Homo sapiens: one gene and its partners. The protein of the gene in region 1 interacts with the protein of each later gene in a biochemical or structural test. Each region holds a gene or a part of one and is shown on either strand. Other genes may lie near its edges.

What was found.
Region 2: of the proteins of TRIM65 (region 1) and RIGI, one has a biochemical effect on the other in vitro, tested with the Homo sapiens proteins (one study listed by BioGRID).
Region 3: of the proteins of TRIM65 (region 1) and IFIH1, one has a biochemical effect on the other in vitro, tested with the Homo sapiens proteins (2 studies listed by BioGRID, with this or other methods).
Region 4: the proteins of TRIM65 (region 1) and VCAM1 form a complex in vitro, tested with the Homo sapiens proteins (one study listed by BioGRID).

Annotation. Positions count from the first base shown.
Region 1 is NC_000017.11:75,893,927-75,901,789, forward strand, and holds the start of TRIM65 (E3 ubiquitin-protein ligase TRIM65), read right to left. Parts: upstream 3,026-7,863; 5' UTR 3,012-3,025; coding exon 2,598-3,011; intron 1-2,597. Other genes in the region: MRPL38 (large ribosomal subunit protein mL38 precursor), read right to left, coding at 4,924-5,060, 5,232-5,368, 5,590-5,748, 7,056-7,101, 7,275-7,347, 7,786-7,863. UniProt on the Homo sapiens protein: E3 ubiquitin ligase that plays a role in several processes including innate immnity, autophagy or inflammation.
Region 2 is NC_000009.12:32,516,189-32,523,213, forward strand, and holds part of RIGI (antiviral innate immune response receptor RIG-I), read right to left. Parts: intron 1-7,025.
Region 3 is NC_000002.12:162,273,685-162,280,709, forward strand, and holds part of IFIH1 (interferon-induced helicase C domain-containing protein 1), read right to left. Parts: intron 6,429-7,025; coding exon 6,312-6,428; intron 4,645-6,311; coding exon 4,521-4,644; intron 4,010-4,520; coding exon 3,731-4,009; intron 3,263-3,730; coding exon 3,003-3,262; intron 261-3,002; coding exon 111-260; intron 1-110.
Region 4 is NC_000001.11:100,729,733-100,736,757, forward strand, and holds part of VCAM1 (vascular cell adhesion protein 1 isoform a precursor), read left to right. Parts: intron 1-1,465; coding exon 1,466-1,786; intron 1,787-2,685; coding exon 2,686-2,952; intron 2,953-4,769; coding exon 4,770-5,036; intron 5,037-7,025. UniProt on the Homo sapiens protein: Cell adhesion glycoprotein predominantly expressed on the surface of endothelial cells that plays an important role in immune surveillance and inflammation.

The DNA of each region.
Region 1 (7,863 bases):
TCTTCTGCACCCGCCCATGAGCAGTACATCTCGTCTCATCCTCCTCGGCGGCTTCAGCAGCTACAAGGAATGTCCCGCAACACTCTGGAGCCCTTTTCCTTCACCTCATCTCAGCCGCTCCTGTGAACTCACCCTGGCCCTGTCACCAGCTCTAAAATCTCCATTCTAGGCATCGATTCTTCCTTCTCTGACCACTGCCTTCGTGCCCTCTCCTGTTCCAGCCACCTCTGTCTCAGTCCTCCCACCTCACCGACCCCCAGCCGTGCACTCTCCCATCCCTCCCTGCCCATCAGGCCTCCTGGCCACCCCTTCCCTTCCTGTCCCATCCAGCGTCCCTGCGCCATCCTCCATCCACGCCTTAGCCCCAGGCCTCCTCTGTCCCCGAATGATTCCACATCCTGTCTTCGCTGCTGAAATGGGTTTTGTCAAGGGCACGGACCACCTCCACAGTACCGATGCTGAAGGTCATTTCTGTCCTCGTACTGAGCCTCTGATCAGCATGGGCATCCTGCCCGTTCTCTTCCTGGCACCCCTGTCTCCAGGTGCCACACAGGGCTGCCATTCCCCCGACCTTCCCCATCTCCCTGGGAGCTCCAGCTTGGAACCTTCTCTTCCTCCTAGCGCTAATGATTCCCAGCTCTCGACTTCCAGCTCCCCGCTCCTGAGCTTTGGAGCTCACAGCAAGCTCCGCCTCCCGGGTTCACGCCATTCTCCAGCCTCAGCCACCAGAGGAGCTGGGACTACAGGCGCCCGCCACCAGGCCTGGCTAATTTTTTGTATTTTTAGTAGAGACAGGGTTTCACCATGTTAGCCAGGATGGTCTCAATCTCCTGACCTCGTGATCCACCGGCCTCCGCCTCCCAAAGTGCTGGGATTACAGGCGTGAGCCACTGCACCCGGTGGTGGCCAGGCTGCGGGGGGTCCGGCCCCCTCCTGCTCCTGGCGGCAGCACCCACTTGAGGAGGTGACCCTCACTCATGGTGCACAAGCTGCAAACACAACAGCCCTTGGTCTGGCAGAAGAGCTCCAGCAGCTGCCCGGGGCGGGGTCAGCGCGCGGCAGGGCTGGGGCCAGGGTCCCAGGTGCCACAGGCCCGTCCCCTGGTTTGTCCCACTGGCCACTGTGACCTCTATATGTCCAAGGCCAAACTCTGCCCTCCACCTACGCCTCTCAGGACATAGCACCCCAGCCACCTGCGTGCTCAAGACAGAAACCCAGGTGTCTCCCTTGCCGCCCTCTCTGCTGTCCCCCGTGTCCCCTCTGGCCTGCTTTCGCCTCCACAAGGTACCACTTCCCCTCAGCGTTTCTCATCTCCTCCTCCATCTTGGTCTCCCTTCCCTGATCCCCAGCTGGTTCTTTGCCTCCCTGCACTCCTACCCGATTCGGGTCTTACATCCTGCCCCCTTCAGCCCCCAGCCAGGTGATCAGTCTCCATGAAGCCCAAATCTGATCATGTGCCAACCTGCTTCCAAGCCTATAATGGCCCCCATGACCCTACAGTAAGAGCCAGACTCCCCCAGGACCCTGCCCGATCCTGCCCCTGCTGACCCCCAGGGCCTGGCCCACAGATCTCAGTGGCACAAATCTGCCACTAGGGACCCCGCGTGCCCAGTTCTTTCCCATCCCAGAGACGGGACCAGGCTGATTCCTCTGCCTAGAATGCTCTTCCCCAGGTCTTTCTCCTGGCTTGCGCTTCCTCAATCCTCACATGCCAGCCTGAAGGCGGCCTCCCCTTCCTCCTCCTGGCCCGTTTAGCAGGGTCACCCCAACCCCTCTATCACATGCCATGTGCTTTCCTCACTGCATTTTGTAATAATACATTCACGCCTTACTGGAACACTGACTTCTTAAGTGGATTCTAAGTCTCTTAAGGGCAGGGAGCTCGTCTGATCCATTTACCAACAGCCCCCATAGCCCCCTCGCCCTCCACAACCCCGCACAGCGAATGAAAGGAGGCTCTCGGAGCGCAGGAGACACACGACGGTTCTCTAGCGCTTGGGCACGGAGCAGGGAGCTGCTGCCTCACGCCCAGGCTTTGTTCATCCAGAGGGCACCGAGCAGCTTCTGAGACCCACCCTGTGTCACTGGCCGGGCTGCATATCCCAGTCTGATGCACAGACCCACGATTTTTTGTTTGTTTATTTTCTGAGACGGAGTCTCGCTCTGTCGCCCAGACTGGAGTGCAGTGGCACGATCTCGGCTTACTGCAAGCTCCACTTCCCGGGTTCACGCCATTCTCCTGCCTCAGCCTCCCGAGTAGATGGGACTACAGGCGCCCGCCACCACGCCCGGCTAACTTTTTGTATTTTTAGTAGAGACCGGGTTTCACCGTGTTAGCCAGGATGGTCTCGATCTCCTGACCTCGTGATCCGCCCGCCTCGGCCTCCCAAAGTGCTGGGATTACAGTCGTGAGCCACTGCGCCTGGCAGACCCACGACTTTTATAATCAGCTCCCAGGTTGGGAGAAGCCCCTTACAGATGAGGCTCCCCGCCCCCGCCGGGTGCCCGAGAGAGCAGGGCGCGGCCCGCAGGAGTCACCCGGCGGTGGCCAGGCTGCGGCGGGTCCGGACCCCTCCCGCTCCCGGCGGATGCGTCACCTCGCGCTTGAGGCGCTCGGCATCCAGCAGCGCCCGCTCGTGGAGGCGACACTCGCGCACGGTGCACACGCTGCACACACAGCGGCCCTCGGTCCGGCAGAAGAGCTCCAGCGGCCGCCCGTGGCGGGGGCAGCGCGCGGCAGGGTCGGGGCCGGGGCCGGGATCGGGGCCGGGATCCCGGGCGGGCCCGGCGCGCACCACCTCCAGCACGCCGCTGAGGGCCACGTTGCGGCGCAGCTCGGCGCCGTCGGGAAAGGGCTCCCGGCACTCGGGGCACGCCTTTCCGCAGCGGTCCCACCAGTCCCGGATGCAGGCCCCGCAGAAGTTGTGGCCGCAGGGCAGCGTCACTGGGTCCTGGTAGAGCCCCAGGCAGATGGCGCAGGTCAGCTTCTCCTCCAGCAGCTGCGCGGCCATGGCCCGGCGGCGGCGAGAGCCAGGCGGGCCCCGGGCGTCTTAAAGGGACCGCGGGCCTCGCGCGCTGAGGGCGCCTGGGCGTGGCTAACGCGGGGCGGGGCGAGATCCGGGCGGGGCGGGGCGAGATCCGCGCCCGGGAAGGCGGAGGGGGGCGGCAGGCCCTTCTCTGACACCCTCGACGAGCGACCGCCGCAGGGGCCTAGGCCACCCCTGCCCACCTCGGCCTGGCCCGCTCGAAGGTTCCGCGTTCCCGCCTTGCGCCCCTCCCTCCGTTAGGGTCCACGCCACCCCGGCTGAGAGCTGAGTTCGGCTCTCTAGGGTCCCAGCCTGGCGGGTCCATCCCACCCCCCTGGGCCTTCAGCCCAGGTCCTGGAGACCAGAGGCTCGAAAACCCCGCCAGGACTCCGGGCTTCTGACCACGGGCCGCGCGGAACCTCTTCTGGACTCATCTGCCAGTCGCCTAACAGCATAGACCCCCACCCCCAACAATCCCCCGGGGCTTGGCGATGAAACGGGCTGGCGGGCTCCCTGCAGACCCGAGCACTGCTGCACTTTTTCCTGGAGCTGGGTTTCGGACACTTGCCAGACTGGGGTGTCTCCCTTCTCTGGGCTACACGTAATTTTGGTTCTTTTAAAGTAAACAGCGAGATGGAAATGTCTGGTCACCAAGAGACAGGGACCAGTTAACTGGTATTTTTCAAATGGCCCTGAATGAATACACAAACCAGCTTTCATCTGCAATCAGCATCCCCTCTTCCTGCTGCCCTCCGCTGGGGAGAGTTCCTTGCCTGGGGTCCAAGCTGATCTGCAGCCTCAGTATTTACAGGCACTCCAGCATTTCCCCTGAAGCTGAGCAGGCAAGGCGGGTCTGGGGCCTAGCGCCCACCTACCTGACAGTGTGTATCAGGCCAGGGGGAACCCCAGGAGAGTACGGCCTTTCTAACCAAGCTGGGCTGATGTTGAGGCGGCACGAGCTCTCACTGCTGCAGCAAGCACTGCGTCCTCTGTGCGGCCATAGACGAAGTTTCTTTCTGGACAAAGTGCACGGATCTACCCTCCACCTACTAGTTAGCCAGACTTCTGCTTTTGGTAAGGGAGAAACAAAACACCTAACCATCCAGCCGCAAGACTCCATGGGTTTTCTGACCCTGAGCAGGTCTCTTGAGACACGCTGTTGCCTACCTAATGTGGCTTCTCCTCCCAAGCATGGGGTGGGGGCTGGAGCCTGTGCAGAGGGTCAGTGCTCGGGCAGGCACTCTCTCTCCAGGGGCCGGTGGGACCCCCCTGAGGCACAGAGCCAGTGCTCAATAAATGCTCCTTCCTGAGCCCAGCTGCTCTGCTCCACTTTTTCGGGGAGCTGGGTTTCAGGAACCTGCTGGATTGGGATGTCTCCCTTCCCTGGGCCACACCTGTTTTTGGCCCACTGCCTGCTTTTGCTTCGGATCCCAGGGCCCCTGACACCCTCAGAAGACGGAGGTGAGGACGCACTTAGTGGGGTGGGAGGCAGCCCGTTTCCCACCCATGAAGCTCCATCGGGGTCCTCTGGCCCTGGAGCACCGACCCAGGCCAGCTATGGCAGAAATCCCTTTTTTTAAAAAATACAGGCAGGGTCTCATTATATTGCCAGCTGGTCTTGAACTCCTGGGCTCAAGCGACCCTCCCTTCTCAGCCTCCCAGTGTTGGAATTACAGGTGTGAGCCACCAAGCCCGGCAAGAAATCATGTTTATTCACATTCCCCACCCCACCACCTGAGAGTCACTTTCACTCCAAGCCCTGGGCCTGACGGGAGGGGGCCAAAGAGGGGGGCTGCCTAAGGCAGGGCCCAGACCCCACAGTGTGGGCCTCTGGAGCTGTGTCTTTACTCTTGCTGCCGATCAATCCCATGCTCTGAAATGCGCACACTCTGGCTCCTTAGTAGATGCCATAGGTGGGCTCATGACTGTCCCTGTACCGGTCCAGGTAGCGCAGGGGCTGCCGGTGGGGGAAGCGCTTCTGCTTGGGGTGGTAAGGGGGCGGCCGCACGAACTCAAACACCGGCTCCCGCATGTCTGCAAGAAGAGTGAGGGGTACGGGGTGGTCTGCTGGCCTGCGCCCCCTCAGGCTGAGGCCTGCCCACCAGGGACCTGCCGCAGCCTTCCCCTAACAAAGCTTCTCCCTGGCAGGGCAGGCGAGGCCTGGGAGCTCAGGCCCACCCAGTGCCCCAGCCCCATGGCCCTTACCCAGAAGCTGGTGGAAGATGTAGGTGACGGAGTCATCCCAGCGGCACTGGAAGAAGGACAAGCCGGCTGGAGTCATGGTTTCTTGGTGTTTCTTGTAGAAATCAAAAGTGCGGAAGGTCCGCTGGGCCAGCTGATAGCTATGAGAAGATAGAGAGCGTATGAGAGTGTGGAGTGGGGCACCAGAGCCCCTCACCCCGCCACCCCAACAGGTAACCCTGAGAGGCCCCTGGGAGTCTGCTAGCACCCTATCCTGCTCTTCTGCCAGTCTCAAGGCTGAGGTCAAGAGAGAACTGAGCAAGAGTGACCGTTCCAGGGGAGCTGGCCTGAGGCCGGGTTATGTGTGGGTGGTGTAGATTACCAGGGTGAGGGGCGTGCGTCCTCAGAGAAGTCAATCGGCTGGTCCTGCTTGAAGAGCAGGAAGGCAAGACGGTGGATGCCGGAGCCTCGGGCAGGGAAGGGGGGGAGGTAGGGACACGTCACCTGTCCTTCAGCCACCCGGTTACCCGGGATGTTGGTTCTGGGAGGAGGAAAGTCCCGGTTAATTACCACTCCAGGGAGGCAGCAGGAGTGTCCCCTCAGCTCCATGCACACCCTAGAGGCTGACATGACTCCCTGGGAGGACAGCTCTAAGCATCTCTCTCCTGGGACAGAGGAGGCAGCCAAGCTCTGTGAACGCCGGGACATGCTGCAAATACGGGAAGCGGGCTGGAGGAGCTCCGAGTGGGGGACAGGGCTCCAGAGAGCATCAGCTTGACAGCAAGGCCATGCAGCCGCTTCCAGGCCCCGGGAGCCGGTGGGTCCGCCACAGTCACTGAGGCTAGAAAGCCAGGCCACTTTTGGCTGCTTTTCCCTCTGCGTCCTGAAGTCTCCAGGACCTCGTCAGGGAGTGTGTGCCCAGCCTGGCACAGGGGCGGCCAACGCCTCAGGCACAAATCCCCAGAGGGTCCTGCCGCATAGGCTGGTAACAGTTGAATAAAAATGACGGAAACCAGCCTCCCAGTCACTGTCCCCAGTTAACCAGAAGGCTCAAAGTTGGGGTCACTGGCCTGACCTCTGCCCCCTGGCCTGGTGTTCAGAGCCAAAAGCTACCAAGATGGAAGGCCGCCCAGTCTGGGCCCAGGGAAGGAGCGCCCAGTGGTTCAAGGAGCACCTGGGGGACGCCACAGCTGCTAGGCCTCTCCCGCTCCTTCTCCCACGTGACTGTCACAGTCCACCTCACGCTGAGTAAGGCATGTGGTGCCATTATCCCAGTTTTACAGGTGAAGAAATGAGTTTAGAGACGAAGGGCCCAGGCATGGTGGCTCACGCTTATAATCCTAGCACTTTGGGAGGCGGAGGCGGGCAGATCGCTTGAGCTCAGGAGACCAGCCTGGGCAACATGGTGAAACCCTGTCTCTATAAAAAAATACAAAAATTAGCTGGGTGTAGTGGTTTGCACCTGTAGTCCCAGCTACTCAGGAGACTGAGGTGGGAAGAGCACCTGAGCCCAGGAGTTAGCGGCTGCAATTAGCCATGATTGCACCACTGTACTCCAGCCTGGGGGACAGAGTGAGACCCTGTCTCAAAAAAAAAAAAAAAAAAGAAAAGAAAAGATGAGGAGGCTTGTGGGGACTGACCGAGGCCTACTGCAAACTTTGTCTCCTGTAGCTGTCTTCAAGTAGACACGTGGATCCCAGGGCCCCTAACACCCTCAGGAGGCAGAGGTGGCAGGTGAATTCAAGGTCCCATGGGTAGTCCATGAAACTCAGGAGCAGCTCAGTCCAGGCTCCCAGCTCCTCTTCCCGCCTGGGCAGCACCCCCTACCCCCAGTACTCCAGTACTCACAGCAGCCAGTGGAGGTACTCAGCATCTGGCTCCAGCAGGTGCCCATCTGCACAAAAACACACCTGCTGACCACGGCCCAGCCGACCACGGCCCTGCCACCCCCTCCCTTGTTAGGAGCCAGCGCTGGAGATCTCCACCTGGCCCCTCCCCCAGCCCCCCAGGGCCCTGGCTCATAGGAGGTGAGCGGGGCAGGAGGCCTGGTGAGCCCCAGACACCCACCCAAGCTAGTGAGTAGCAACGTCCACAAGGAGCCCTCTTCTGCCTCATAGGTCACCTCTGGCGCTTGGGCAGCCTGGCAGGGTGAGAAGGAAGCTGTCAGCCCCACCAGGGACAGGCCAGCTGTTGCAGGGAGCCTTGGAGAAAGGGGTGCCCACTCTGACCCAAAAGCCCTTGACAACCCCTGGCACAGGCAGGCAGGCAAAGGGATGCGTAGAGAAGCAGCCCTGCAGAGTTGCCTGTCCAGGCAACAACCACAAAAACGAACATGTGCCAAGGCCGGGCCAGGAGGGCACACCACAGACAGCAGGCTGGTCACAGGAATGTGCTAAGACAGAGCCTCTTTTTCCTTCATTTTGTTCTATTTTCTTTGAAATTGTCATGGTGTCGTCTTCCAGGAAATCAAAGAGACAGAGAACAACAAAATTCCAAACCCAGGAGTGTCTGTGACACTGAGATGGGATGTGTCTGTGTTTGCACAGGGCAGGGAGGAGGGGCACAAGTGAGTGGTTACCTCGGTTGGAGTCACCTCATTGCCACAGTACACAGGCATCAGGTCATCCTCACCCACAGCGTAGGCCACGTGCAGGGG
Region 2 (7,025 bases), on another chromosome or scaffold:
ATCATGATTGCTTCCTGAGTTCCTGTTTTCCCACACAGTTACATTTCTTCCCTGCTATATAAACCCCTAATTTTAGTGGGTCAGGGAGATGGAGTTGAGACTAATCTCTCATCTTCTTGGCTACAGCTCCCAATTAAAGGCTTCTTCCCTGGCAATACTTGTTGTCTCCCTGTTTGGCTTTCTGTGTGGCTACCAGGAGGACCTAGGCCAAACCCCTGGTGCTTCAGTAACAGATTTTTGTGGCTGGGTTGCTGTGGTCTAGGAGTCTCAGAAGCCCTCCTAAGCAACTGCCCACCCAATTTTGGCTGGAAGTGAGTTTTGGTCTCTCTGGCCCTGCTGCTGCCAGCCCCAGCTGAGTTCCTGATTGCTAGGAAGAACAGCCTTTGAAATGTGACACTGGCATCTGGATAAGTGAGTGTCCTTTCTTGGCCCAGACAGCAAGATCTGCTCAATTTGAAAATTTTAAAAGGAGCTTCCATTTGCAGGTTAAACCAGCCCAACTGACTAAGAAAGGGAAGCACCCTGACTCTCAGTATGATACTCTAGAGAGCGTGTTTGTAATTTCTGTGTTTGTGTCTGGCCAAGTTAGTGTCTTTTTTGGGTACCAGACAGTGGGATCGGCTTCTCTCAATTTGGAAAATTCCTAAGAAATTTCTGTTTGCAGGTTAATAAAGCCCGATTGAGAGAGAAAAGCACCTCGACTGTTTCAGTTTGGACACTGTTCGGGCTTGTCTATTGCTTCAGCAGTCGGATTGTGTTTTGTTGATTGTATGTGTCAATATAGTAATGGGAAATTAGAATTCAACAAACAAATATTCTTTTGTACTACGTTTGCCCCAATATTCTTTGGAATCTGGAGTTGGCTGTTGAATGGGAAAGCCAGGTGGAGTCCCATGTATTCTGGCTTTTATGCCGCTGTTTTAAGCAGGGTTGGGCCTGGTGAGTAGTTTCCACATGACGTTCTTCTGTAGTGCTGTTTGGCCCCAGGTTTCTTTGGAATCTAGCTTCTAAAAATCAAACTGCCATGGAAACTGCTTTACCCAAAATTCTGGTTCACAGCCTTCATTGGATTACCGATTGGAGCAAACAAATTTTAGCCATGTGGACTTGGTTGTAGATTCGTGAGTTTGTATTGCTATCTCATGGCTAGAGTTCCAAGGTAAAAGCTGTTGGATCTTTGTGTGTGTATACATGTTTAGATGTGTTTATCTAGATGTACATTAACTATGTTATACACTATACCTACCAAATTGGCTTATAAATAAGAGTGCTCATAAATTAAGTCCAAAGTGTTTTTCAAGTTCACATGACTTCAGTAAATCTTTAATAAACAAGCTGTCTTTAAAATTATTGGTAAAATAAAAATAGAAATGTCTTCAGAATTGTCAGCATACATTTTTGTCTCGGCTTTATATTTGTCTCAGCTAGATAATTTGAGGTATCAGAGTTTGGCAGCAGGTTATAAAGCTATAAACCCAGTGAATATTTGTGTGAATTCTTTATAAGACTAATTTAATGCTGTTAGTTTAATGAAAACAGCTGAATCTTCTGAGTTATTGATCAAAATGCCCACGTATTAATTTTAAGGTTATTTAGGTGAACACCTGACATTCACAGGTTATAAAATGGTTAAGAAGGAAATGATGCAGAAATAATCTAGATAAACTGCTAAAAATAAATAAAATGTAAATGGTCAAATGCTGTAAATGAACTTTTGGCATAATCGGAAATATAATCATTGGATGTTTGAGTCATTTCCAATTAAGAAAAGGTTATGATGTGGGGAACATGTTTCTAAAAATTGTGGAATGGTTCTCATCTATAAAATACTAATATCTGCTAGGCAGCTCAAGATTTCTTGCTTCCTAGGTTTTTACTGAAATTTAAGGTTGTTACTAAGGATAAGAATTCTAGTTCATATGTAATTCTATATATAAAATGTGCAAAAGACAATGTGTTTTTATTCAGAAAAAAATTTTATCTAACTCAGAAGTTATCTAAAGTTTATTAATAATTATGGACTTGAAAGGTTACTTATGAAACAAGGTAGAAAAGAACAAGTAGACGAGAGAGATGTGGAGAAAGTTATGAGTATAAAGATGTATTTTTGGTAAGGAAGGTTATAAAGAAAATAATTTTGTATGACAAAGCATCTTATAATGGTATTTTTTTTGTCCTAAAGTAAAATGACTGTTTAAAAAAAAAAAAAGAAGAAGAAAAAGAACGAAAATCCAGGACAAATCAGAAAGTCTAAGCATATCATAGATGGTGTGTGTAAGTCATGTAGTTTCTTTCCTATTTCTTTGTGTGTCTACCTTTATGTACAGACAGAGAAAATACAAAGTATAAAAGGCTTAAATAATATTCTCTTAAAACCAGATAGAATATTGGAGAAATCTGGCTAATTAACACTGCTCATAGTTAAAGCTCTTAGTCTTGATGAAAGTAAAATAAGAAATATTGTAAAGAAACACATTGGCAGTTTGGCAATCCTTTCTTAATATAGTTAACCATGAAGCCAGATAAAAGCCAGATATAGCAACAACCAAATTTCACCTACATGCTTGCATTGCTTCACACTGTATTTGCTCTTCTGCATAGATATACTATCATTACAGTATAATACTTACTGGTCGGCCTCCTCCAGAGTAGCTGGGATTATAGTTGTGTGCCATCATGCCTGGCCAATTTTTGTATTTTTAGTAGAGATGGGGTTTTACCATGTTGGCCAGGCTGGTCTCAAACTCCTGGCCTCAAGTGATTCACCCATCTTGGCCTCCCAAAGTGCTGAGATTACAGGCCTGAGCCACCACGCCCAGCCTAAAGTGAATTTCTTAATTGCACAAAATATATAGTGGTATTGGTGAACTTAAAGACATTAAATTGTGCATCAGGAACAAAATATTCATCATGTGTTTTTTTGGCTCTGGGTAACACTATAGCCTCCAAGTTAAACTGAGTAGAAAATTTTCAGGTTGGTTTCCTGTTTGTTTTTTCTTTTAATTTGCATTTATTTGCTGTTTCTTCTTCTTTAGGTTTTACTTATATATACATATTAATAAAACCATTGATGGCTTTTAGTTTCTAATGTAAGGAAGGCTTTTATTTGGTTCCATGAATAATCATTTTGTTTCCTATGCATTTCCAGTATCTCATCATTTGCTCTACTTATCCAAAGTTCCTAAGCTACCTTTTTCAAGCTTCCAAAAATTGTTGGTGGACACCAGCCTTTAAAATTTGTTTGGTTTTGCTTACCTCTAATGAACTAGAGAGCTATAAGAACTTTAAGATTCCTGGCAAAAAATAATAAAAGGTTTATTCTTCTAAGTTCTGAACAGAAATAGTACATTATTATTGGTTATTTGGAAAAGTAGGTGAGAGAAATGTTTAAGTGGTGTTTATTTCCAAGGTAATTCAATTCAATAAACAATAGCGGTTTCAGATCTTTTCCTTTAATGAGGCAAAACTGCTATATGGGTACAAAGTCTTAATATTCAGAAAAAAATTGGCTTTGTCTTTAAGGAAATTATATTGATTGGGCTTTCTCTCAAACTAATTTAGTTGTGTTTACTATTATTAAGATTAAATAACATTTACTTGGATTAAGTCATAAAAAAAATTATAAGACTTTCTAGTGTTTTTTTTATCCTAAGCCATTTATCACTGATGGGCCTTCACATGTATACTTGAAAACAAAATATGTACATACAAGTGTTATGCCAGTTTGAAGATTCTAGTGGTGTAAGTCACTTAAATCAGTTGTCAGTACTTTATCTAGAAACCAATCTTGGAAATGTATGATGAGGCTCTTTCAAAATAGCTGAAAAGAAATTACTGTGTGCTTATTGTCACTTTGTCCTTGTTTTGTTGTATACTTTTTAAATGAAAGATTTATCTTCATATTGAATTTCCAAAACTGATACTTGCATTTACCATTTTTTTTTTTAATGATGGAAAGAAAAGTTAACTATCTTACTTTGGTAAGTTTGGCACAGGACTTACCACATTTTTGAGGCTCTAGGTCACAGTTTTGTCACTAGAATGCTAGCAGATAAATGCAAGGAGTAACCTAACCACTTTAATACAATGGATTGTATAATGGGTTGAAGTGTTTCAGACAGTAACTACTAGGCACCAAATCCCAGGGTTTTATTTTGTGACATATTAGAGAGAATGATGAGGTTTCCTGCAGTATAAATATGCTATTAAATAATTCTTAGGAAACAATTATTTAGTAATTCAAAGGCCTTTGACTCCTGGATCCAAAAAAGACACCAATACCTGCTAAATCTTGAGCACTGACACCAAATGAAGCCTCGTCTTCAGACTCAGGAGAAGGTGACAATCAAAATGAACTGCTTTCATGAGACATAGGGCTAGAAATTAAAACCATTCAATCCCTCTACGCCCAGGAACTATTGCACAAAAGGTGAGCACGTGAGCTTGTAAGGGCTGATTTTGAGTTATAAAATTAGTTCAGGGTTTTTCTATAAATTAAACATTAACATCAAAAGCACACTGATGCAAGGCCAATGTCTGGGCCCCTGTGTCATAACAGGGTTTTCTTGGAGCATTACTCTACTCTTTAATAGGAAATCGTAAAACGTTATAAAAAGATGGCTGGGTGTGGTGGCTCAGGCTGGGCGTGGTGGCTCAGGCCGGGGCTGGTGACTCAGGCCGGGTGTGGTGGCTCACGCCTGTAATCCCAGCACTTTGGGAGGCCGAGGCAGGCGGATCAGCTGAGGCCACGAGTTGGAGACCAGCCTGGCCAACATGGTGAAACCCCGTCTCTACTAAAAATACAAAAATTAGCCAAGTGTGGTGGCATGGCCTGTAATCCCAGCTACTAGGGAGGTTGAGGCAGGAGAATTGCTTGAACCCAGGAGGCAGAGGTTGCAGTGAGCCAAGATCGCACCACTGTAGCCTGGGCAACAGAGCCAGACACCATCTCAAAAAAAAAAAAAAAAAAAAAAACTTCACAGAAATCCTATCTTATAGTCAAACTGATTAAAATTCGGCTTATAAGGTTTTATTAAAATTAGCTTTAACATTAAAAATATACCATACAAAGGTAAAATTTGATGTTCTCTTTTGAATAAAATGTTTGTATAATATTGACATAAAATATTTGTTTACCTTTTGAGTGAACTGTGGGGGGAAGAAAAGGAAGAGGGAGAGACATTTAGTTGGCCTCATGCTGTCTTTATTAGGCCTTATTGTTGGGAAACTGAGTCGCCTATCAAAGGGTAAATGTGTTTGTTTTATCTTTTTGGCTAAATGAATAACTATTTTGTAGCGACCTGTGATCCTATTTTGTGATATCAAGTGTCTTAAATCTTTGATACTGACAGACTTCCCAACAGCAAATATTTCAAGTTCTAAATTCAGGGGGTTTTTTTTAACCTCAAACTAACTTTTTTGTGTATTAGCTTCCTTGAATTCCAATACAGACAGACATGTTAGGCTTCTTTGGTATATTAGAATTATACAGGCAGCATTATCAAATGTGAGGTGGTATTTAACTTCCTTTGGGTTATATTTGTATAGATGTGCTATTAATATGTGTTGCAGGACTATATGAGATTCCTAAAATTCTGATATGTCTTAATATATGGTGTCAGTAATGATGATTATTATGTTAAATTGTTGTATGCCAACAGAAAAAAAAATTTCCTTGTCAACTGTGTCTTTATGGCTCTCCTAAGACTTTTGTCATTGCAATTGTTGTTTTGCATTGATTCTTTTCAAAAAGTGACTTATAATCAGATATAGTCCAGAGCTTGTTTATTTAGGGGACTTCATGAAAAGGAGTCTTGAATGCAGATTTCTGATAACTTTGGAGACTGTGCCACTGGAATACAGAAAACTTCTAGGACTCTTAATTAGAGTCCCTCTTAATTAAAAGGCTGACATGTTTATAAAGATTACTAACCCAATATGAAACACAGCAGGAGTTGATTGCATGGACTGAACTAATGTGGGACTGAAATAATTTTTTATGGTTTTGTTTGAAAAAGTCTGGAGAATTTTTGTTTTTTGGAATCTGGAGAATTTTTTCTTTTAAGCTCTTCATAACCTTTAAGAATACAGTATATTAAGTAGAGTATACCCTTTTAAACAGAATTTGAGGCATTTTCTCTCTCCCTAATTTCTCCAGAATTTATAAACTATTTGTGAATATTCTTAGTTCATGGCAATGTGTTTTCTTGCATACATTTAATAAAAATCTGTTTTCTTTTATAAGGGGACACAGTTGGAGGAACAAGTTATTTTCCCAGGGCTTTGACTGAAATGGCCTTGTGAGAGGTTCCAGCAAAGCCAATTAGGAGAGCCCATATGGACAATAATTTTTGCTGCACTTTGTGTGGGTAAATAAGCCAAGTATATGTAACTGAGGCTTATTTTGCAGGTAGGCCCATCCAGCTGTGATATGTCTTTGGTGGAAGCGGGGAACAGTAATGATACAGATTGTGTCTCAGAAGAAAACTATAGTATTAGATTAACTTTTGATTCCTGGATGGCCACGTGGTCACCCATAGTATGGAACTGCCCACCACGCCATTCCTCAGCATGAAGCTGCCAGAAAGATTGAGGATCAGATTCCCCATGATCCAGGAATTGATAAATAGAAAGAGGGGGACTGAAACCAACACAATAGTCCCATATACAATTCTTTCGAATAAACATGGAAATTGACCCTCCTGATCTTAAAGCTGAAACTTATATTTGTTTTATCTGAGTTCCTTCCCCAGGAAAAGGACCCCCAGGCCTCTCAAAAGGTATAAAAGAACTGAAACTCATCAGACCATCACATCCAGACAATGAGACACCAGGCCCCTCATTTATCATGATTGCTTCCTTACCCCTCCAGAGTCCATTTTCCAACACCTAGTTATATTTCTTTCCTTCTATCCATACCCCTAATTTCAACGGGTCAGGGAGATGGATTTGAGACTGATCTCCTACCTCCTTTGCTGCAGCTCCCAATTAAAGCCTTGGCAAAACTTGTTGTCTCAGTGATTGGC
Region 3 (7,025 bases), on another chromosome or scaffold:
TTGTTTTAAAAACTAAAAAGATGTTTTTGCTGTTTAACTAAAAGAAAGCAATTAAAATAGGAACACAACAAATAAAAATTAACATAGTAAGTAGAGGTATTTGAATGTACCTGGACCATGGCTATTTCATTGGTGACGAGACCATAACGGATAACAATGTTACATTCTTTAATATCCAGACCTTCTTCTGCCACTGTGGTAGCGATAAGCAGATTTATTTTTCCAGTGCGAAATTTACTAATGACTTCTTTTTGTTCATTCTGTAGAAACATTTTAATAAATTAAATTTTGTGATGCTAAACACATTAAAATCTTCTAATTAGAGGAAGAAATAATAAATTGCAACTGGTCAGTGTAAATCAAAGGATTAGATCATACATGGATTTGTTGCCATCTGTTTTTGGCATTGAACAAAGACATAATGGTGAGACAACATTTGATTTCCAATCTGGGATTACCACACAATAACAAAAATATTTCCATCATCCAGTCTGGAGGTGGGAAGACCACATTTTATGCCAAGGAAATAAATTGATGGGTGACTCCAGAGGAAGAAAGGAGGAGCTGTCGGTTGAGAAGAGGATATGACAATCAGAAGCTAAAATGGGCTTTTTTCCCCCACTACATTAACTTCAGAATCTTTGCTATTTAGAGGATAAGATGCAGAGATGCTTTGATATATTGTTTTCAGTCACAGAGAAAATGCACACTGTATATGCATTTGGTCACTTTAAGAATCATTTGAGTTAGAAGCTATGGAATATTCCCAAAAGGACACAAGAGAAACTGAAAACATCAGCTGCATCTAGGGAGGGGAGCTGGAAGACTAGAGGTCAGTGGTATGCCTTGTGCCTCATTAATTTTGAATGAGGTAAATATATTATCAATTCAAAGGGACAATATAAATAAAAATGAAAGAAGAGGTTATGCAACTGTAAATAAAACTATTTTCAAATGAAAAAACTCTGAATTTTGAAAGTCAATATAAATAAATTAAAATATGACCTCTCATCCTTACATGGGAGAAATGAGTGAGCACAAACCTAGCTTGATATGGACAATGTGGTTTTATTTTCATAACCACTCTCATCAAAGCTGTTGGTCCAGTTGGCATTTGGTGCACATCCACACTGTCTATTGCCCCCATACATTAAACAAAAATAAAGCTGCCAGACCAAAAGTATGTTCTTCCATCCCCTTCCCTTTCTTCTCAGAGGCAGTGTGAGTCCTTATTTGACTCCTACTCCTAACTGTCGGAGAACCCTGTAGAAAGGCCTCTCTTGAGTCTTCTCTGAAAATTTCTCCCTCCGGCCCTCACATCTCCCGATAAAAACTTACATGTTCTTGGATTTTAGCAGAAGATGCCTGTGTCTTAATTTGAAGGAGTAACTTTAATAACAAAAATTCCAGACAGTGTCAGATCTTCAAGTCACATCACATAGATGCCTAACACCATTGCTAAGGAGTTTGTCCACCCCAGTTTACAAGGTGAGGATACAAGGAGTGGGGAAGGAAGGGAATATGTTCTGTATTTTGGCACACAGCCCCTTGGTTTGAAATGAATAAGGAGCAGAAAGTAGCTTGAACATAGGCTTTTCATTTGCACTCTACCTCTTTTTACAGAGAAGCTTAGCCCTCTTACAATAAAAGTCACAACGCTAAAGTTAATATAATAGAAATTTAAAAACAGAACTCATAAGAATCAACACAGAGGCTGTGAGACTGAACTTGAGTTTTTCCTGCTAGCTTTCTGGAAGCTAAGGCAAAAAGAAAAACATATAAAGCAAACTACATCTCATCAAAAAGAAGGAAGCAAACTTGTTACCCAAGGAAAACAGTACTTTCTCTGGCATTAATTTTATTGGCAATGCTCACAGGAGTGCATGTAGAGGGTATATAAAGAGTTATAGTGAACCATTTCAAGAATTTTTTTCCAGCAAACACTGAAACAGAATTAATTTGCTCCATTGGCTTGAATAGTGATAACTATAATAGAAAGGAAGTATCCATTTGTCCAGAAAGACTCAGGGTCAATGTGATTTTAGCCCTCAGAAGAATATTTTACTCTAACAAGGCATCATTGCTTCATGCATGCTTGTAATGTCTACTAGTGCCTTTTTTTCTTACCCAAGTGTTTTTTTACTATGCCCACAGTAAGCAACATGTAAACAAAGTAAAACAAAACACCTTAAAATGGAACAGAAAACCTACTTACCAGAATCCCAAATCTCTAATATATCAAATTCTTTAGTTTTTTCAAGTTTCCCTAGAGGTCTCATTCTATGTAAATATATTTTGCATAGTTCTAGTTATAACGAACACATTTTTGTGGGAGTTTGAATTTTCCACTTGATACTACATGGCAATCATTTCTGAACTTTGTTGTTAAGCTTACATGTCACTTATTTTTGCAAGGGAAACTTAGAAAGTTCTTCCAATTATTATGTGGGAAAAATGACTCCTAAAACAACACTTAACCTCTCAAAAACCACAGATTTGATTGCTATTAGCCTTAGATTTTATTTCAAGAACAGGTGTTTTATCCTGTAAATGTATTCATGGGTGGTGAGAGGATTGGTAGAAAAAGACTAAAAACAATTTGAGAAGAGTAATAACAGCATAAGAAAAGAAGTCCAGGCTGAGCGCAGTGGCTCGTGCCTATAATCTCAATACTTTGGAAGGCAGAGGCAGAAGGATGGCTTGAGCCCAGGAGTTTAAGACAAGCCAGGACAACATAGTGGGACACCTTTTCTACAAAAAAGATAAAAAAATTAGTTGGGTGTGGTGGTGCACACCTAGAGTCCCAGCTGCTCAGGAGGCTGGGGCTGGAGGATTGCTTGAGCCTAGGAGGTCAAGGGTGCAGTGAATCTTGATCATGCCACTGCTCTTCAGCCTGAGTGACAGAGCGAGGCCTCGTCTGAAAGAAAAGAAGAAGAGAAGAAGAGAAGAGAAGAAGAAAAGAGAAAGAAAAGAAAAGAAGTCGTCCAAAAGGATATTTATACCTGTGTCATGGGTTTGAACTCACTGCTGTGTCCAGCTCCAATCAGATGGTGGGCTTTGACTCCTACTTCAGCAAATTTTTCATTTTCAGTAATCCACTGGGAAAGCGCATATGCACTCTGTCGTGTTTTTGTAAAGATTATTCCTCGTGCTGATTCCTCAGTCCTAGTATATTGCTCCATTATGGTATTTCTTAATTTGGTCAGCTTTTCATTTTCATATTCTGGGTTTTCAGCCAGCCTTTTCAACATTTTATTGTTTTCTTTAAGAAATAATTAGAGTTGATATGTTAACAAGCTTGATTTAGCCACTCCACAATGTACAGATATATCAAACATTTTGTACACCAAAAATATACAGTTTTATTGATTAAAAATTAATTAATTTAAAAACTATTTGGAAGTATAAATTAGTAAAACATACAACGAATTACACTAGAAGGTTTCATGAATTGTGGCTCATCTACAATCTTGCGCTATATCTAATAATTAGGATGGTTTAATAAATAAATTCATTACAATTGTCTTGACAATAAAACTGAATGACCAAATGACTGACTGTGATCATACAACTGGTAGCTAATCTGGTCATATCATTAGAAATAGTTCCAATCTGAGTGGGATTTCTTCTTTCAAAAGATATTTCTCTTTTTGGAGAGCTTATGAGAAGCAGTAAGTTCATGTTGAAAAGGTAAATGAATGACACCAGTATATGTTACTTTGAATCTTACCAAAAAATAAAGTCATGAGAAATCTATCTGTTTCATCCAGTTTCAAAGGTTTCTTTAAATCATCCTCATCTTCATCACCATCACAATACTCATCATCACCACCCTCATCACTATCATCTTCTATGACTGCAAACTTCTTATCTTTCTCTTCATTATAGAAAGTTTCAAGATGAGTATACGCATCTATCATTCGAATTGTGTCATTAATTTGTAGGGCCTCATTGTACTTCCTCAAATGTTCTGCACAAACACGTTCTTTGCGATTTCCTTCTTTTGCAGCTGTGAAAAAATATATTATGTAAGTGAAATAATAAGCATATAAACCCCCTAAAATTGTGCCATGGACTTGAATATATGTTACTAACTGCAAAACTGGCTTCACCTTGGTTTTAAAATGGGCAAGTTAAGGCTCAAAATGTGTCCTGAGCTCTGAAACAGGGCAAGTTTTCCAACTCCTAGACTTGCTGCTTGAGTTCTGCCTCAGCAAAAACATGTAGCTGATGCACAGAGAAATGGCATGAAAATATATTAGTTGAGTTTGCCTTTGGAGACAGAGCTATTAAAGTTTATCTCAAGACTCTGGAGACAAAGAGAAAATTGGATAGCATTGGAATCTCTCTCCTTAGAAAAGGAATTAGAACATGTTTATTATGCTTGTCCTACAGAGAACACAGAAATTCTATTTGGAACTACTTTTGCTTTCCATTTTTTGGGGAATCTGTGATATAGTCATCTAAAATCTTGGTATAAACATGGGATAAACTAAGTGTTAGGTCCAAACCTAAATTACCTTTTTTTTCCATTTGAATGGCCCATTGTTCATAGGGTTGAGTTCCAAAATCTGACATTGGACTCATTTGACAATAAGTTTGAATCCTTGTCATTATTTCTAGAAGTTTCTCTTTAAATGGATCCTAAAAATAAAGTACACACTTATTCTTATGTATTCTTATTGTTAAAGGAATAACATTATCTTTGTTAGAATAATTTCTAGGTTATAATAAATCTGATTCATCTTTGTTTAGACAAAGTAACAGGTTAGTGTCCCATCACTTGTCTGTACATTTATTTTTGTCAGCTTCTCTTTTAAGCCTGCCATCAAGCCACACCCACACCAACACCCTGTTACCTCTGCTGGAATCTCCAACTTAAAAGGTTAACAAAAGTAAAGTTAATGAATTATATAAACCTTGTATGTTAAAGGTAACTTAGAAAACACATATTGCATTAATGCCACAATTATTTAGAAAGCTTACAGTGTAATTTAAGAAACATTCCTCCTTTGTAAAACTGGTTTCAGTATTATTTCGACCAAAATAAAAAGTTGAAGTAGAGTCTGAATAAAGCCAGAAATAAAGGAGTGCATGCTATATGATTCCATTTATATAAAGTTCAGAATCAGTGAAAACTCATTTTTTGTTTTAGAAGTCAAGATAGTAGTGATTCCTGGGGCATGGTGACTGGAAGGGGGAGCCAGGAGCTTTTAGGATACTGGCAGTGTGCTGTCTCTTGATTTGGATTTTGTTTACATATGTGTATTCAGTTTAGGAAAATTCAGCAATCAGTACACATATGAATTTGTACTTTTCTGTATGTATGTTATGCTTCAAGGTATATAAAAAAATTAAAGTAAGTTTAAAAAATGGCAAATTCTTTTAAAAAATGTACCTGAGAAATTTAGTTTTAAAAATCTTTATGAGTAGAAACATGCATTTAAAATTATCAAGTAAAACCAAATAAGTAACAAAAAAAGGAAAGTGAATAAAATATATTCAACTGTGCTAGTGCAGCTGGAGTAGATAGCAGTCTTTTTCAGAATTTAAAAAAAGAGATATACGGAGGCTAGTTACTAACATTGGTTTAGTGCCTACTATATTTCAAGCATTGTTTTATCTACTATGCATATTTCATATCATTTGATCCCAACATTCTTATTTTCAATGGTATTATCAAGTACATATGGCCAGAATTTGTAATGCTTTCTAAATTTTACAAAATAAAGTATTGACATAATTTACTGGCCATAATGTCCAAATTGACTCTCAGTTTATTCTTATAATTCCTGAAAAATTCATCAGAAAAGCATCATTAAAGTAAATATTTCACTTCTTTACCATTGCACTGTTTTCCTAAGAAAGTAAATATGCAAGTATGCAAATTAGATAGGATTCCCATTATCATTGCCAAATGTAATTTGATAGCAACAAAATGGCTCTGTGGAATGTCAGAAAATCAATCCTGGAATTCACGAAGAAAATTAAAAAGGCTAAAACGAACTGTCATAACCCCTCCAGCTTAGTTACACATCCCTCTGCCCATGGCCCCTCACTGTCCCTTTTAACTCATATGTACAAACAATGAATAAGCTATTCCTCATGTAAATTAGAAAACTAAAAGAGGTCTAGAGGCGAGAATTCACTGTAGTGCTTTACTGCCTAACATCAATTAAAAAAAAACCTGAAACTTGTTTGCTAAAATTTTTAAATAATATTTTTCAGATGGTCAGTATAAAATAGCCTTTGCCATCTTTCTACTGAATGTAGTATTGTCAATCAATAGATATAAAACATTAAGCCCATACTTCTCTGGTTGCATCTGCAATGGCAAACTTCTTGCATGGCTCCTGTATTTGGTTTTTCAGTTGATCAAGGTTTTCTTTAACAGTTTTAATAGTAAATGCATCAAGATTGGCACATAGCTGGAAAAGAGACATTTTTCAATATTTATGCAATTATTTTTCCCTTTCACTTTATTCAACGTAGAACTCTTTTTCATGTAAAAAATATGTAGCATTAAATTGTAGCATAAATATGTGGTATAAAATTTCATGAAAGTAATATGTAGCATTGCTTGCTAAATATAGCATTTTAACATTGTTTTATTATGGATCTCATTAACCCACAATCAGCAACATTTGTCCTAATATAGGAAAAAGGAGCTTCTAAATCAAGTTGGTGTAATAACAGAGAAAAAGGTGTATTGATATTCATTCCTTAAATTCCATTTTCCAAGTGGAAAACTGACATGGAAAGAGTATAACAATTTACCATCATTGACAGAGAATGATTTTGAGATAACCATGTTACATGAGGCATATCAAAGGTCAACTTGACATCCGTGGATCATACTACCACCTTCTTCTACACATAAAGCAGGCATCTACACATAAAGCTGGGAGCATCCTTAGTCATGTTCCTTGATTATTAGATTGGAATTAGTCCTTAATCCCAGTAATAAATTATATTTTGGAGCCTATAATTGCATCTCTGAATGTTGTGTCTACTCTACATAATTT
Region 4 (7,025 bases), on another chromosome or scaffold:
GAGTAGTTTTAAACTGTTTTAAGGCACTGTTTTAAAGGCACATTTGATGAGCTGTCTGCAGGATGGGAAAAAAATAAGGGAATAGGAAGCAGAAGGAAGCCAAAATTAAAGATAAGAAGTTAGATTGGGGATGGGGATGGTCAGTGTCAGTGGCTCAGGTGAAAAGCAGAATCAGGAAGCAGCGCTAGATCTTAATGTTGATTTATGCCACCTACATATACTACACTTTCTCTCACTCTTCTTTTGTCTTAATAAACATTCTTTGCAACCTCAAATCTCTATGAACTTGACATTGCTGGAGTTCCTCAGTCCATATTGAATGAAGAACAAAATATGCAAAGTGACCATAAAGTTATTTTTTTTTGAGGGGGTCACTCTGCCTTGTTTTATTCAGTAGAACTCAAGAGAACATATCGTAGAGATTTTCTACCAGAAACCCTGCCCAAACTTGTGTTACCCTTCAGGATTTTGTTCAGAATGAGTTAGAGTATGCCTGTAAAGGGATTTGGGTCTCTCCAAAGAAAGATAAATTTTATTTGCATTATCATATTACCCAGAGTCCATGATCTGCTGAGATAGGCACATTCCCAGCAGAAATGAGAACCAGCAGTGGGGTCTTATTGCAACATAGAAATATTTGAGCATGTATCACTTTAACAACATTTTGGTTAAGGAAAAAAATGTTTAAGCATTATTCTTGCCCTTGATAGCTATCTTAGTCTCATTTTACTGATTTGTACTGTATTATAAAGAATACAGTTAAGGCAGTTCTTGATTACAAGTATTATCTGAGAAATATTTAAAACTTGCTGCCTAAATTTGGTCATTAAAATTTAAACTAAGTTGAGAACTTCCTTGTTTGTCTTATTTGATACTGAGAGACTGCACAGCTCTGTAAAACCAAAGCTGGGCTCTGAGGTCAGAGAAATATGGATTTGCAGCCCATCTCAGTGACTTACTAGGTATAATGTGTGAAGAAAGTCTCTTAGCCTCTATATGTTTCAGTATTCCTGGCTGTAAAATAAGTAATACTCATTTTACACAGCTGCTTTGAAGACTGAGATAATGAATATTAGGGGACTAGTTTACAATAAGTATTCAACATAACATGGCAAATTTTAAAATGTGAAATATATACTTACTAAATAAGATGGTGGAAACTGATGTATACTTAGAAAAGGTCAAGCCATGGCACACAGCAAGATTGCATATTAAGAAGAAAAGAAATAAGTGAAAATTTATTACTCAATGACTGGATATACTAAGTAGTTTTTGTTTCTAACATTATTCATATATAATATCATAAATATGTCATTTATAAATACTGTCATTACTTATATATTGACAGTCATTCTATCCCAGGTGACTTAAAGCTGTCATTTTTAGGCCTTTACATTTAATAAAGCTTAGCTCAATTTTTCCTTGAATATCAAGAATAAAAATCGTTTTTGCTTGCGATTTGCAGCATTCCCTAGAGATCCAGAAATCGAGATGAGTGGTGGCCTCGTGAATGGGAGCTCTGTCACTGTAAGCTGCAAGGTTCCTAGCGTGTACCCCCTTGACCGGCTGGAGATTGAATTACTTAAGGGGGAGACTATTCTGGAGAATATAGAGTTTTTGGAGGATACGGATATGAAATCTCTAGAGAACAAAAGTTTGGAAATGACCTTCATCCCTACCATTGAAGATACTGGAAAAGCTCTTGTTTGTCAGGCTAAGTTACATATTGATGACATGGAATTCGAACCCAAACAAAGGCAGAGTACGCAAACACTTTATGTCAATGGTAAGTACATATGTGAGGTATCTACAGTTTAATACCTGTCTCTTTATCGTGTTTGCCAGGCAATAGTTAACATAAGGTTAATCGTTAAAACCTCTGTGGAGAAAAAACGTTACTGAAAAGAAATTTCAAAATAATGATGATTGTAACAAATCACCCTCCCTAAACTTAAAATAGTAACTATTTACTGGCTTATGATGCTTTGAGTAGGCAATTTAGGAAGGGACCAGCTAGGCAGTTATTCTGTTCAATATGGTATTAGCTGAGCTCACTCGTGCATTTTCAGTAAGGTTAGCAGGGCTGGCTGGTCTCAGATGACTTCACCCACATGTCTGGAGCCATATCTTGGATGACTTGGCCTCTCTTTCTTTATGTGGTGTCACCCTGAGGAACAGTAGCCTAGATTTACTCTCCAGAGCTCAGTGTTTCAAGAAGGTGTAAATGAAAGCAGCCTCTTCAAGGCCTGGGTTTGGAAGTCCTACAGTGTTACTTCTTCTTCCACATTCAATTGGTCAAAGTGAGTCATGAGGCCAGCCTAGAGATTCAAGGGGTGGAAAAATAGACCACATCTTTTCACAGAAGGAGATTCAAATAATTCACAGTCATGTTGACTCTACCATAAATGGCAGTACACACTATCATTGACCCTCGTCATTCTTTGGTTGCAAGGAAGTGTATACTGAACTTACTTCCATTAGAAAACACCATGACGTGTCCATGTTCTACTCTATCATTTGGTATCAGCTAAAGTAAATGAGGACCAAAACCTCTTGTGGTGAATTATCAAGGTTTACAAACTCTTTGAGTCTGCTGAATCCATAGCCCAGTTTTGCAACATTATTAAAACTCTTTGGAACTCAGGGCATAATAGGTCAAGCTAACAAGCGTCTCTGCCTTTTCAGTTGCCCCCAGAGATACAACCGTCTTGGTCAGCCCTTCCTCCATCCTGGAGGAAGGCAGTTCTGTGAATATGACATGCTTGAGCCAGGGCTTTCCTGCTCCGAAAATCCTGTGGAGCAGGCAGCTCCCTAACGGGGAGCTACAGCCTCTTTCTGAGAATGCAACTCTCACCTTAATTTCTACAAAAATGGAAGATTCTGGGGTTTATTTATGTGAAGGAATTAACCAGGCTGGAAGAAGCAGAAAGGAAGTGGAATTAATTATCCAAGGTGAGCAGAGTGTGAGTAATGAGTTATCCTTGCTAGTAATGTTTTTGGTTATGTTACTGATTATGAGTAAAGTCTTTGAAAACAAAATTTTTACTACAAAAGTGTGATGAGGGTTTTGAAGAGTTTATGATGTTTCCAATGTATGGAGAAATCTCCTGAAATTGTCTTTTCTCATGAATTGTTACAAGTTTCTTATCCTGAGATTCTTTTAAACTCAAGTGAAATGCAAGCCTTCAGGACCTGTGTCAGAAGTTCCAGTTACACTTATGAGGCAATGGTTATGGTATTGAAATAAGAATAGGAAGAGGAATATCTGCATTTGGGATTATGTAGGATTAAAGCTACCATATCTGGCTGAATTGAACTCTGAGTGGCAATCTCACAAGATGGCCAGTAGTATTTGCTTAGAAGCCTAAGCTGGCACTTAAGTCTTTTGCAAATTCTGAGATTATGAGTAGCCATGACTCCGTCCTTTGGTTCATCAGCCTGAGAGCATGGAAGCACTAAAGTAGATTAAGTCAACAGATCTAGGCCCCTTCTCTTTAGGATGGAGACCCAAGATTGAGAACAAGACAATTATTAGTTCGCAGGTTGAAGCCATACGGAGTTATGAGCAAAATCATCAGGTGATCAATGTGGATTTCCTCTATCCCATCCCTTTTGGGTATCAGGGTTCTTTTCTTTGCCAGGGTTGTCATTTTGTCTATTACCCCTTGGCATTATTCCCACTAAGATATTAGTGACTTTCTTGTTATCTCAACTCAATAAGATTTGTATTTTAGAAGAAGAATATTGGAAAGACAATACACATCCTTAAAAAACAGACAAACAAACAAAAAAACCTTTTGGATGGTTGTCATGACCTTGGATGGGGAAAGAATTTCAAATCAACTTACAAAATAGAAGACCTTAATAGGGATTAAAAATTGGTGATATGGTACCTGCCTCCAGTGGTTGTTGCATTAATAGAGATGTTATATGTCAAGTACTTAGCTCAGTGCTTGGAACTTAATAAATGGCAGTAGTATTGTTAAGGATAGTGAAAAAGCCACATCTGTACAGCTTAACTTCTTGATTGAAGAATCCAACTCAAAACTCAGAAACCTGTAAAGGCCTTTGTACTTCAAGGAAATTTTTTCAAAACAGTATTACAAAAAATTAAGTTTCTATTTCACATCTGAATTCTATAGCTCTTTATCAAACACTGTATTTGTCAATTTTCACACTGCTATAAAGATACTACTTGAGATTGGTAATTTATAAAAGAGGTTTAATACAGTTCCACATGGCTGGGAAGACCTCACAAAATGTGCAATCATGGCAGAGGAGAAAGGGAAGCAAGGCACACCTTAACATGGCGGCAGGCAAGAGAGAGTGAGGAAGTGCCACACTTTAAAACCAAAAGTTCTCGTAAAAACTCATTAACTATCATGAGAACAGCATGGGGGAAACAGCCCCCATGATCCAGTCACCTCTCACCAGGTTCCTCCCTCAAAACGTGAGGATTACAATTCAAGTTGAGACCTGGATGGGGACACAGAGCCAAACCATATCAAACACCTATTCTTTGTGCTAGGCTGGGTAAATAATTATATTAAGGAACATGAAAGAAGCATAAGCCATGTACTCTCTTAGTTAAAACATGATCATTTCCAACAATCCAGCAATGCTTGACTTCTTTACTTGCCCTTCTTAACATTTAATGCAAACGCTAAGCACAAATAGCTCCAGGGAAGCTATTGTTGATGTCGCTAAATTAATATGGAGTTGGTTTATATTTCACTCAATCAGGGATGTCTTTTAAATTCTCTTTACAGTTACTCCAAAAGACATAAAACTTACAGCTTTTCCTTCTGAGAGTGTCAAAGAAGGAGACACTGTCATCATCTCTTGTACATGTGGAAATGTTCCAGAAACATGGATAATCCTGAAGAAAAAAGCGGAGACAGGAGACACAGTACTAAAATCTATAGATGGCGCCTATACCATCCGAAAGGCCCAGTTGAAGGATGCGGGAGTATATGAATGTGAATCTAAAAACAAAGTTGGCTCACAATTAAGAAGTTTAACACTTGATGTTCAAGGTGAGTTTGTTTTGAGTTTTTGTTTTCTTGGTAATAGTTCAGAGGTTCCAAGGATTACTAAGAGTTTCCAATATTTGATGAATGAGTTGGCAAAATGGAGCTGTGGTTTATTTCTTAAGGATTCTTGGAAAAATCAAGCACAGCTGCTTTATCCTATAAAGTTTAGCCAGGAAGTTGACATTAATCATTCGTGACTGAGGAATTCCTGCTTGCTTTTTTCAGTTTACAATTTATCATTTGTCTCTGAGGTCTTGCAGTTGCTAAATGTTTAACCATATTTTCAAACCTTTTCCCGGGAGGTTATAAGGAAACTAAAGAAGTAGGATTGGCACATTGAAAAAGAAGGGTTCTATCCAGACCCTCTTCCTTTCTACCAGAAGGAAACACTATTTTCTGAACATGGAGTAACTGCAATTTTCTGGATTGACTCTTTTCAGGATAATAATTGGGAATAGTAAACTTGATCCTGAACAACATAAAAAAATCTCTCGACTATCGAAAAGCCTCATTAAAATTCCAACCCACTTGCCATCCTACTCTATTCTGGTGGACAGAGAAAGAGAGGAGCAGTATCCTCATTGGAGAAACTTCAGGGGCCCCTTAATCTCCTAAGCCCTCTTGTGAATGCACAGTAGGTAGGATCTGCTGATCTTATTGGTGTAAACAAAATACATCAGCCTTGGCTGATCAGTATCACACCCCTTGCACACCAATTAGCTGCTATTGTGTAATGGAGGCCATACTTGGCGGTGGAGTGCAAACAGGACTGCAAACAAATGCCAAGTCTTAAGAGGTCTGGCACTTGGCTATTGGAGTGAGCAATCACTTGTCAATGCAGAGAAAATTTGAATCTACATCAGAAACAGGTAAAATTTTTGTTCGTCTACCCAAATTTCTCAAAATGGCAAGCCTTACCGTATGTATGTTTTCCATCTTCACAGTACCTCCTCAAAACATGAGAATAGCTGTATAGCTATACATCCATCTAGAAATGTTAAAGAAGGGGAAAACATCACGATTATATATGAAACTTCTAGTCATCCACCTGCAGTGATTATCCTGAAAAGAATTGATCTAGCCAATGAAGTTACTATGTGTTCAAAGAAGGGAACATTTACTTTGTATCATGTCACTCAAAATGATTCAGGGGTATATGTAATCAGTGCTTCCAATGAGGTTGGGGATGATTCTGGACAGATTGCAATCTCAGTTATGAGTAGGTTGAATTTACTCATCCCTATTTTCTTTAATCCTTAATGCCTCTGGGCCACCTTTAATTAAGCCTAGCCCTGGGAAATTGGTCCCCTAACATTTCTGTAATTCTTTTGTTAATTAATTGTGACCTTTTAAAGACACATCAAACCTGCTTCTCTACTTTTTGACTCTGTCTCACACACATTGCTTTATTTTCTAATTGCTTTATCAAATTAGCCACTTACACAGTTGCTACTTTTTACTCATTATTTAAATGAACAATCAAAGAATATTAAGCGCTCAGCTAGAAACTCATGCCCCCAAACTGAATATAGTTTAAACTAGCTAAATTTTAATGAAGACCAAAAAATGGATATTTTTCTGGGTATTTTGAACTAGATTTCTTTTGCATTTGGCTGGATTTTTTATTTGTTTCATTTTGTCTTAGCTTGAACGTATTCCATTAATAGAAATCATCAGGATTTTTAAAAGATATTCAGTGTTTATATGACAAATAGAAAATTGTATTTGAAGGTTGCCCTGGCAACTACCTTGGCAGCAAATTTGTATTTTTCTGCCAATGCCTGTGGGGAAGACTGAAAGGCAAAAGATAATGTATATTACATTGAAAAGAAAGAAAGAAAAGAAATAGAAATAGTATTTCTGTTTCTCAGCATGTCATCAATATTGATGCCTATCCATAATCATGTTGATGGACATCCCATTCAAATATTACCTTTATACTTTGACTAGCTCAGCTCTAGCAAGGGAAAGTCAAAAAGTGAGACAATTATC